Homo sapiens: one gene and its partners. The protein of the gene in region 1 purifies or fractionates together with the protein of each later gene. This does not show direct contact. Each region holds a gene or a part of one and is shown on either strand. Other genes may lie near its edges. The genes, in order: RSBN1L, GRHL1 and NKAP.

The links.
Region 2: the proteins of RSBN1L (region 1) and GRHL1 purify together in Homo sapiens (co-immunoprecipitation; one large-scale study listed by IntAct). This does not show direct contact.
Region 3: the proteins of RSBN1L (region 1) and NKAP purify together in Homo sapiens (affinity purification with mass spectrometry; one large-scale study listed by BioGRID and IntAct). This does not show direct contact.

The regions. Positions count from the first base shown.
Region 1 is NC_000007.14:77,699,389-77,703,039, reverse strand, and holds part of RSBN1L (lysine-specific demethylase RSBN1L), read right to left. Parts: intron 1-3,651. UniProt on the Homo sapiens protein: Lysine-specific demethylase that specifically demethylates methylated lysine residues of proteins.
Region 2 is NC_000002.12:9,993,049-9,996,699, reverse strand, and holds part of GRHL1 (grainyhead-like protein 1 homolog), read right to left. Parts: exon of another isoform or gene 3,494-3,651; coding exon 3,456-3,493; exon of another isoform or gene 822-3,455; coding exon 730-821; exon of another isoform or gene 385-729; coding exon 299-384; exon of another isoform or gene 273-298; intron 1-272. UniProt on the Homo sapiens protein: Transcription factor involved in epithelial development. Binds directly to the consensus DNA sequence 5'-AACCGGTT-3'.
Region 3 is NC_000023.11:119,937,210-119,940,860, forward strand, and holds part of NKAP (NF-kappa-B-activating protein), read right to left. Parts: intron 1,602-3,651; coding exon 1,521-1,601; intron 1-1,520. UniProt on the Homo sapiens protein: Acts as a transcriptional repressor. Plays a role as a transcriptional corepressor of the Notch-mediated signaling required for T-cell development. Also involved in the TNF and IL-1 induced NF-kappa-B activation.

The DNA of each region.
Region 1 (3,651 bases):
CTCTGCCAAGCCCTTCACTATGGACTGAATCATGCCTCCCCAAAATCCATATGTTGAAGCCTTAATGCCCAATGTGACTGTATCTGAAAATAAGGCTTTTCGGAGGTAACTAAGATTAAATGAGGTCAAAGGGCACAGTCCCAATCCAATAAAATTGGTAGCTTTATAAAGAGAAAAGGAAGAGATTTTTCTTTCCATTATAGGAAAAGTCATGTGAGCACACAGGAAGAAGGCAGTCACCTACAGACCAGGAAAAGAGCCCTTACCAGAACCTGGCCATGATGGCATGCTGACCTCACGCTTCCAGCCACCAGAATTATAAAAAAATTAATTTCTGTTAAGTCACCCATTCTATGGTATTTTATTATAGCAGCCCGAGTGACTAAGACACCCCTCCTCTCTCCATCATTCCACCCACAAAGAGACAGGAAAATTAAAGGACATCTATCTGAAGAAACTGAAAGCCTTCTTGCCCACCACCCAGAGAAAAGAAATGAAGATTAAAAACACAGCAGTCCATTAGTCATTAACCTTGCTCATGATCACAAAGATCTGAACAAAACCTCCAACTAAAAGAAAGCAACCAAAACAAACAGAAATAAGTAAGAAAAACCAAAAATAATAGGGAGAACAGAAGAACACCTCAAAGAAGCTGTAATTAATATCCTTGAAGAGGAAACAGAAAACGTTGCACCCATGAAAAAGGAACAAAATACTATAATACTGAAACAAAGGACAGGAGCTCTTAAAAATTCTTATTAAAGGCTTAAACTTTTCCAGGCGCAGTGGCTCACACCTGTAATACCAGCACTTTGGGAGGCCAAGGCGGGTGGATCATGAGGTCAGGAGTTGGAGACCAGCCTGGCCAACACAGTGAAACCCTATCTCTACTCAAAAATACAAAAAATTAGCTGGGTGTGGTGGTGTGCGCCTGTAGTCCCAGCTACTCAGGAGGCTGAGGCAGGAGAATCATGCGAACCTGGGAGGCAGAGGTTGCAGGGAGCCAAAACTGCATTGCACTCCAGCCTGGGCGACAGTACAAGACCGTCTCAAAAAAACAAAAGCTAAAACTTTAAAATTCAGTCAAGGCCAGCCACGGTGGCTCACGCCTATAACCCCAGCACTTTGGGAGGCCAAGGCAGACAGACCATCTGAGGCCAGGAGTTCCAGACCATCCCGGCCAACATGGAGGAACCCCATCTCTACTAAAAATACAAAAAATTAGCTGGGCGTGGTGGCGCACACCTGTAATACCAGCTACTTGGGAGGCTGAGGCAGGAGAATTGCTTGAACCCAGGAGGCAGAGACTGCAGTGAGCCAAGATCATGCCACTGCACTCCAGCCTAGGCAACAGAGCAAGACTCCATCTCAAAAAAAAAAAAAAAAGTAAAATTCAGTGAAAGTTCAGAAGGAAGAGTGAGATGTGAAGAAAAACACCAAAGAAAAAAATATATAAATTATAAAATTCAGTGAAAGGATTGACATTCCCCAGATAGTAGAATAGACAACTTTTTGGAGATCAGACGTCTTAACATCTACTTTGGGAACCAGGCAATAAGGGAACACCACCTTCAAACTTTTGAGGGAAAATTATTTCCAATGCAGAAATCTCTTAACTGCCAGTCAAGTAAAAGGATAAAAATGAAATCCAAAATGAAAATCCAAAATGAAGGAAGAAACCAAAAGGAAGGCATGAGATCCGGAAAAATAAAATTCAACAAAAGTTAAAGAAATTCCCAGAATGTCAACTAAGGAAAGTCCCAAGGTGACAGCTATGCAGCAGGCCTAAAGAGGAAACAACCCAGGCTAAAGCAGTAAGGACAGCTACAGAAGGGATGTCGTTTTTTTTTGTTGTTGTTGTTGTTGTTGTTTTTTTTTTTTTTTTTTTGAGCCAGAGTCTTGCTCTGTCGCCCAGGCTGGAGTACAGTGACGCCATCTCAGCTTACTGTAACCTCCGCCTCCTGGGTTCAAGCGATGCCTCAGCCTCCCAGGTAGCTGAGACTATAGGTGCGTGCCGCCACACCCGGCTAATTTTTTGTATTTTTAGTAGAGATGGGGTTTCACCGTGTTGCCCAGGCTAGTGTTGAACTCCTGAGCTCAGGCGATTCGCCAGCTTCAGCCTCCCGAAGTGCTGGGATTACAGGCGTGAGCCACCGCGCCCGGCCCCAGAAGGGATGTCTACAGGAACAAATGGAATGGGTAAGTTTATCTGACAGATTTGCCCATGTGGAAAATTGTACTGAGAAGCATTTTATGGAGCTACTGGAGGGTACAGAAAGACTCTGCCAGAGAAAACTAAGCAAATGAAAAAAATGAGACATGAAAAACAAAAGGTTACACAAGAAAATAAAATCATAGTAAATTATTCCCTCAGCAGAGACAAATATTTAGTCATATGATAAAAACTCTGAATATGAATTTAACCTAAAATTGTACAGTAACAATACTGGAGGAGAGTGTAGTTAGAAAAATCTTCAGACACCCATCCCTTTGACATCACTCACATTTATATACCTCAAATTATTTGATTCTAAGAAAAGCTGCTATTTTCATTAGAGTTAAATCCTGCAACTACACTTTCAAGGCAAAAATTCAGTGAAATGCTCTGGTTTTGTCTTGAAATACTTCACAGGGTCATTTTAAGGAAAAAAGTAAGTTAACAAATACAAAGCAAAAGTACTAACAAAAGTTAGAAGATCTATACAAATTTTGCTGGTTACTGGAGTCAGTGAAGGCACACTGACAGCTAATGAAATATTTGTTGTGGTTTGCCATAAAATAATTCTAAATTTTGGATACCCTTGGTATATGTCCACTTTTACTTTCCACACTTACCAATTCTACAATTTATTCAGTCTTACAGGAATATTGATTAACTCTCCAGTAAATTACCTCCGTAAGCACTAAAATCAGGTTATTTTCTGGTTTTAAAAATCTAAAATGTTGGCCAGGCACGGTGGCTCACGCCTGTAATCTCAGCACTTTGGGAGGCCAAGGCAGGCAGATCACAAGGTCAGGAGTTTGAGACCAGCCTGGCCAACATGGTGAAACCCCCTCTCTACTAAAAATACAAAAATTAGCCAGGCGTGTTGGCGAGTGCCTATAATTCCAGCCACTCGGGAGGCTGAGGCAGGAGAATTGCTTGAACCCGGGAGGCGGAGGTTGCAGCGAGCCGAGATCGCGCCACTGCACTCCAACCTGGCCAACAAGAGCGAGACTCTGTTTCCAAAAAAAAAAAAAAAATCTAAACTGTTTTGCACTTTTCCTTCTTATAAGAAATTTAACTTTTACTTGGTGAGTCAAGCTATCACGCAAGTCAGCTACAGTACTATGATTAGATGGCCTTAGAGATTGTGAGGCATCAGGCCCTGGTACTAAATGGGGCCATATTAGTATACTTTCATAATTCTCTTGTTCAGCATTCTTAACTTTCATATCTGTCAATGATCCTTCCTCTATCAGCATTCACCCATCTTTCAATTAGTTATAGGGTTAAAAAATTAATAACTATGCTTCAGACTCAAATAACATTTACTAAATACCCTGCTAGGCCCTTTCTTATACATGCTTTCATTTAACCCAAATACGTTCTGTTAGAATGGTCACCAATGTAAAAATAAAGCAGTTCTGACTTAGGACTTTTTAAAAGCC
Region 2 (3,651 bases), on another chromosome or scaffold:
AGCTTCTAAGTGGCTTGCTAAATGGCAATCTCCCTTTAACCACGTATATAAAAATTAAACATTTCATAGGCCATCACAGATGCATTCACTTCAGTGGAACAGGTGTGACTGAGTGACTGTGTGAGTTAAGACCCCTGGGTGAGGATAAAATGTGGGACGCACGACGACTCGAGAAAGGTGTCAGGGATTCCAGAAGGTCTGACAAAGGATTTGGATCATCTGATAAAGTGTTTCAATGAAATCCTATGTACTTGTCCTTTCATTTTGTACAGGGGATTACAGAGTTGATCCTACTTACAGCTTCCATCAAGCCCTTCAAAGATGGGGTTTTGAGCATCAGGGCATCAAAGACTTCTTCTGACTCCTTTCGAACGTAGAGCAGCACTAATCAATCCCCAACCAGGAATAAGGAAGGGAAAAGAGAGGAAAAAAAGGATACAGTTCACATGAGCAAAAGAGGAAAACAGACCACGGTACCAGCTAAAATAAAAACCACATTCACATCAAGGATGACAAGCATCAGCCAATATCAATTCTGTCTTAAGGAACACAGGTTTCAGCTTCTCTGAACTTTGCTCTAAGTCCTAGCTCAAGCTAGATGTCAGTCTGATGGAAGAATTCCCAAGCAAGTGAAACTGGGAAAAATGTGCTTGAACCATTTATGCTTTTGATAGATTCTGAACTCACTTCTGATTTAAAACTCCCACTAAGAAATGGAAACGAACACACCTCTCTTTGGTTCTTCTATCCGGGCCAGCTTGGTAGAAGGAGGGACAGCAAAGTCATCTTCTGTGCCGTACGGCCCCCTTTTCAAGACAGAGCTGCAGTGATCCAAAATATGCCGTTAGTGATTCAACTTAACCAGCTGCATCAACATTAAGGTGTTTTAGAGCCTGTCATGGAACTAGATTTAAAATGACTTTCATTCTTTATCTGGTCCAGCTTCCTTATTTGTGGATGAAAAATCAGGCTAAAGGAAGATCCTGACTCCAGGGCTCATGGATATTTACAGGCAGACATGGGACCACACTCAGGTTCCCTGCAGGTATCTGCACTCTCATCAGATAAAGCTGCCTTCTCGAAGATGAGGCGCTTTGGTTTTTTTTTTTTTTTGTGAGACAGGGTCTCATTCTGTTGCTCAGGCTGGAGTGCAGTGGTGCAATCATGGATCACGGCTCACTGCAGCCTCAACCGCCCAGGCCCAAGCAATCCTTCCACCTCAGCCTCCCAAGTGGCGCACACCACCACACCCAACTAATTTTTTTATTTTTGTAGAGATGGGTTCTCCCTATGTTGCCCAGGATGTTCTCAAATTCCTGGGCTCAAGCGATCTTCCTACCTTGGCCTCCCAAAGTGCTGGAATTATAGGCATGATCCACCACGCCTGGCTGTCTGGTGCTTCTTTTCAGGAAACACTCTATGGAGGAGGCAGGATCTGAGATAACCTTGTACAGGCAGTGACAAAGGAGATGATGTTTCAAAACACTGAGGAAGTGTGAGCAGGAAAATGCAGGGCCAGCCTGGCTCAAACAGAATGGCCCACAGGAAGCCATATCTAGAAATTTCGGGAAGCCGACTCTACCGTGAATGTCCTGATCATTCAGCTCTAAGGAATTAAATTTTACATGGCAGAGAAGAGGGAATAGTTGAAAGGTCTGTGAGACTGAGTGTGGTACCCAAAGTGTGTTGGTACCCAAAGTGTGTGGTCAAGACTGGAGGGGACCCCAGGACCTTCAAGCAGAAAAACCAGGGGAAGGAGGCTGGTATAATCCGAGCACAGGATTCCACAGGTTTAAAATATGGTGGTATCATGGAAGCCAAAAGGTGAGAACAGACCAAGGAGAGTCTGAGGAGAGAAAAACTCAGATCGAACGAACGCCTGGCTACCAGGGGCACCTGGCATGGAGGGTCCAGCAGGTGGTGTCACGGCAAGCAAGAGAAGAGGTAGATAACTGAAAGTGAAGGGAGGGAGTGCTGGATTTGGAGCAGAATGGCCACTTCAGGAGCAGGGGCTGAGCCTCCGAGACTCTGCCACCTCAGTTCCTAACACACAGCAGCCGTCTAGTGAAAGTGCCGGCAGGACTCAAGCCTGAAACACTAAGAATCAAAGGGGCAGTGCAGGCCTCGCCTTCAAAGAGAGGCACGATGGGTAACGTGTGGGGCATGAATGTCCCCAGTATGACGGTTTAAGCCCTGGGAATGGATGGAAGATGAGGGAAGAGGGATGCTGAGGAATGAACTTCCCATGGAAATCTTGGCTCTCTCCATCAGGATGCACCTTTCTGAGGGCAGATAACAGAAAGAGGGAGGCTGAGGCGGGAGGATTGCCTGAGACCAGGATCTCTACAATAATAATAATAATAATAATAATAATAATAATAATAATAATTAGATGGGTGTGGTGGCATGTGCCTGTAGTCCCACCTACTCAGGAGTCTGAGGCAGGAGGATCACTTAAGCCCAGAAGCTCAAGGCTGCAGTGAGCTGTGACTGCACCCCTGCACTCCTACATGGGCCTCAGAGCAAGACCCTGTCTCTAAAAGTAAAATGAAATAAAAACAAAAAGAATCTTTGCCTTGTTGAAAAAGTCCCAGAGCCATCAAGAAGGTTCTGATAGCCCAAAGAGGGGTAGCGTCAGCCCCCCTCCACTAGGCAGCATGAGTAGGGGGCTGCCCGGCACAGGAAGGCAGAGCCCAATTCTGGGACAACCTGAGCATCAAAGTAAATGACTAATGAATCACAGCTTATTGAATAAAACAGGAAACTATGAGTTCATACTGATAGCAATAAATGAACGAGTAAACTGAAAGTTTGATGGGGAATGAGATATTTACAAAGCTACAATGCACCTCCCCAGACAACACTTACTATAAAAGGAGCCACTTTGCAGTGGAGAAGCTGGCAGATACCAGCTTAATCAAGTGACCAAAGAACACCATTAGTAACAGATAAACTGACATCAAGCGCCATCTGCTAGGACACACGGAGAACCCAGCCTGGCCTCTATGACATCCCTGCCAGGCCTGGAATCTAACCATGAGAGAGCAGCAGACACACGCAAACTAAGAAGAGTCTACAAAACAGCTGGTTGTAATCTTCAAAAATATTTGGTCAGAAAAGTTAAGGAGTGGCTTAGTTCTAGACTGAAGAAGATCAACAAACATGACAAACAACTACAATGTGTGATCCTGAACTGGATCCTTTTTTGCTATAAAGGACATTATTGGTGCTAATGAAGCAATGTTAATATTCTAATCTTGACTGTGACACAGGAGGATGTCCTTGTTGGTAGGAAATATATACCACGATATTCAGGAGTGATGGGCCATCAGGCTGGCAACTTATCCTTGATGGCTCAGGGAAAAATGAGTTCTTTGTACTGTACTTGCAGTTTTTCTACAAGTTTGAAATCATTTCCATTATTAAAACAAAACAAAACAAAACATAAATCTTACCCTTCACCCTCCAATTCTTCAGAGGCAATGGGAAGGACCTAAGACCAAAGGAATAGATTGCTTTTCAAATGTATGCTCAAAATGTTTGGCCATAAATGAATTATTCCTAAAATGGAAATAATTTTGAATTTCACCAATCTAATATAAAATCCTTTAGCCTTAGTTTTCAATAACAGATTCTTACAGATGTCTTGAA
Region 3 (3,651 bases), on another chromosome or scaffold:
GAAAATGAGTATTATTCAAATTCTACAATAGTTTAGAAAAGGAGTTTCCACATCATATAATCTTTTCCTCTGAAGATCATACTTGGAGTAATTTAAATATTATCTAGAAAATTATTTTGGCTGGGTGCAGTGGCTCACGCCTGTAATCCCAGCACTTTGGGAGGCCGAGGTGGGCGGATCATGAGGTCAGGAGTTCAAGACCAGCCTGACCAACATGGTGAAACCCCATCTCTACTAAAAATACAAAAATTAGCCAGGCATGGTGGCATGCACCTGTAATCCCAGCTACTCGGGAGGCTGAGGCAGGAGAATCACTTGAACCTGGGAGGCGGAGGTTATGGTGAGCCAAGATCGCACCACTGCACTCCAGCTTGAGTGACAGAGTAAGACTCTGTCTCAAAAAAAAAAAAAAAAAAAAGAAGAAAGAAAACTATTTTTAGGGTTCCTTCCAACTCTAATTCAATACATTCAGGTTCTTCAAGTGTTTTCTTTTTTTTTTCTTTTAAATAGTCTTGTTATTTGCCCAGGCTGGTCTTGAACTCCCGGGCTCAAGGAATCCACCTGCCTTGGCCTCCCAAAGTGCTGTGATTACAGGCGTGAGCCACCGCACCTGGCCTCTTCAAGCATTTTCTAAAGGTATCTGTAAGAACAAGTTTCAGATAATAATGCTTTATTATCCAATCACAAATTACAGGTTTACCTGTCAAGCACATTGTCTCAACTCAACCTAAAGTTGGCACAGAAACAGAGAGGGAAGAAGAAACTTATGAGTAGCATCAAAGAGAAAAGAAATAAGCAAAAAGAAAAAGCATTAAGTCTGCAGATAGTATTGGATATAGGAATATTAACAAAACCATACTGGTATATTCGTTTTAAAAAATCTCTTTGTAGGCTGGGCGCAGTGGCTCACGCCTGTAATCCCAGCACTTTGGGAGGCTGAGGCAAGCGGATCACGAGGTCAGGAGCTCGAGACCAGCCTGGCCAACATGGTGAAACCGCCGTCTCTACTAAAAATACAAAAATTAGCCGGGCATGGTGGCAGGCACCTGTAATCCCAGCTACTCGGGAGGCTGAGGCAGGAGAATCGCTTGAACCCAGGAGGCGGAGGTTGCAGTGAGCTGAGACCGCACCATTGCACTCCAGCCTGGGCGACAGAGCAAGACTCCATCTCAAAAAAAAAAATCTCTTTGTAATGTTAATATCTGGCATGCAATCTGCCACTGAGTTTAGTTGAGAAAAAATAATTCAAAATAATGTGTATTATTTAACAATGAACCCTTCTATTAATAGGAAAATTATATTCCAGGAATTATTTTAGATTATGCTAAAACCTACTAGCAACATGTTTTAATCTTTAGATATGTTCTATGTTTTTAAAACTTAAGGGGTAGAAGAACATAAATCACAAGAAAGAAAAATGTGAGATATATTTAAAGTTCTTCACTTAAACATTTTCACAATAGATTCAGGATTTAAACACATATTATAACATTTTAAAAATATATTTTTTAACCACTTACTCTGGTTCAGGATTCTTTGGAGAAAGTCCCCATACTTCAGGAGCTCCCAATTCTCCAATTCTCTCTCTCTCACTTAATCTCCTAGCAGATAAAGACATGTAAATTATAACTCAATGGCTGAGTTGTTTCCTAAATATATAATCAAATTCAATAGGAGTCTAGTTAAGCCTTTTTTCCCTTTATATTTTAAACATGGATAAAAACTTGGTTTAAATGTAAACTCATCACTTAAGGTCTGATGTTCTGATGATACTATCAAATGGTACAGACTATAGAAATGATGGCCTGGGAGACTGTCAAGTGCATCCATTCTGCTGAATGCATGACACAGCTCTTAACTGCTCATTTCATCATCTGTAATATGTGACAGAAACAGCTTCACATTTGTAAGTAACTTCATTTGTTTACAGATTTATGAAAGGTGAAGAGAAGTCTCTTTTGATATGGTCAAACCTTCAGTTTTCAGAAATCGAGGAATTAATGAAGAAAATAAAAATGATGCATTAGACGTAGAAAACAACTGAAGTTCTGAAAATGAAAGAAAAGTTTTTATTTTATTTTATTATTTATTTTTTTAGATGGAGTCTCGCTCTGTCGCCCAGGCTGGAGTGCAGTAGCACGATCTTGGCTCACTGCAACCTCCGCCTCCTGGGTTCAAGTAATTCTCCTGCCTCAGCCTCCTTAGTAGCCGGGATTACAGGCATGCGCCATCACGCCTGGCTAATTTTTGTATTCTTAGTAGAGATGGGGTTTCATCGTGTTGGCCAGGCTGGTCTCAAACTCCTGACCTCAGGAGATCCACCTCAGTTGCTGGGATTACAGGCGTGAGCCACTGCACCGGGCCCGAAATAAAAGTTTTTTATTTTTTTGTAGAGATGAGGTCTTGCCGCCAGGTGCGGTGGCACATGCCTGTAATCCCAGCACTTTGGGAGGCTGAGGCGGGCGGATTGCTTGAGATCAGGAGGTCAAGACCAGCCTGGCCAACATGGTGAAACCCCGTCTCTAGTAAAAATACAAAAATTAGCCAGGCGTGGTGGCGCATGCCTGTAATCCTGGCTACTAGGGAGGCTGAGGCAGGAGAATCGCTTAAACCCAGGAGGTGGAAGTTTCAGTGAGCCAAGATCGCACCACTGCACTCTAACCTGGGAGACAGAGCGAGACTCCGTCTCAAAAAAAAAAAAGAGGTCTTGCTTTGTTGTCCAGGCTGATCTTGAACTCCTGGCCTCGAGCAATCCTCTTGCCTCAGCCTCCCAAAGCGTTGGGATCACAGGCATGAGCCACTGCACCTAGTCAAAAAGTTTCATTTAACAAAAAATATACTTGGGGCTGGGCGTGGTGGCTCACGCCTGTAATCCCAACACTTTGGGAGGCCGAGGCAGGTGGATCACCTGAGGTCAGGAGTTCAAGATCAGCCTGGCCAACATGGTAAAACCCTGTCTCTACTAAAAAAAATACAAAAATTAGCTGGACACGGTGGCATGTGCCTGTAGTCCCAGCTATTCAGAAGGCTGAGGCTGGAGAATCTCTTGAACCCTGGAGGTGGAGGTTGCAGTGAGCCAAGGTCACGCCACTGCACATGACAGCCTGGGTGATAGAGTGAGACTCTTATCTCAAAATAAAAAACCAAAAAAAAAAAAAAAAAAACTATACTCAATGAGATACAAGGTTTGTTCCCTCTCTGTTTTCCTTTTAGTTCCTTTTTGGAAAAGGAGTGCATTTTGTATCTATTCTTTGAAGGACACTAAAATTTGTTTCTTCTTTTGTTTTATGCCTATGGTTTCTTCTGTTTTAATTTTTGTTATTCCTCATAAACTAAAAAACAAAACAAAACAAAGACTAAGGCTCATTCTCTCAAATTTTAGCTGCTTGTGACTCCATTTGTTTTTAAAAATCCTTCCAAAATAAATATAATTGCAATGAGTTTTTGTATAAATCGTTTTTGCCTCCTTAATCAGGGGAAAAGGTATTATAACTATGCAGAGTCAGACTGAGAGGGTTTCCCACCTGAAGTAACAGACAATTTAAAAGGTAACATATTTATAGCTGTACTTGGAATGTATGGATATCGGGGGAAGAACGCCTACCAGGCTGTAAATAGCAGGAAGTCCTGTTGTCACCTGGTTTCATCTGT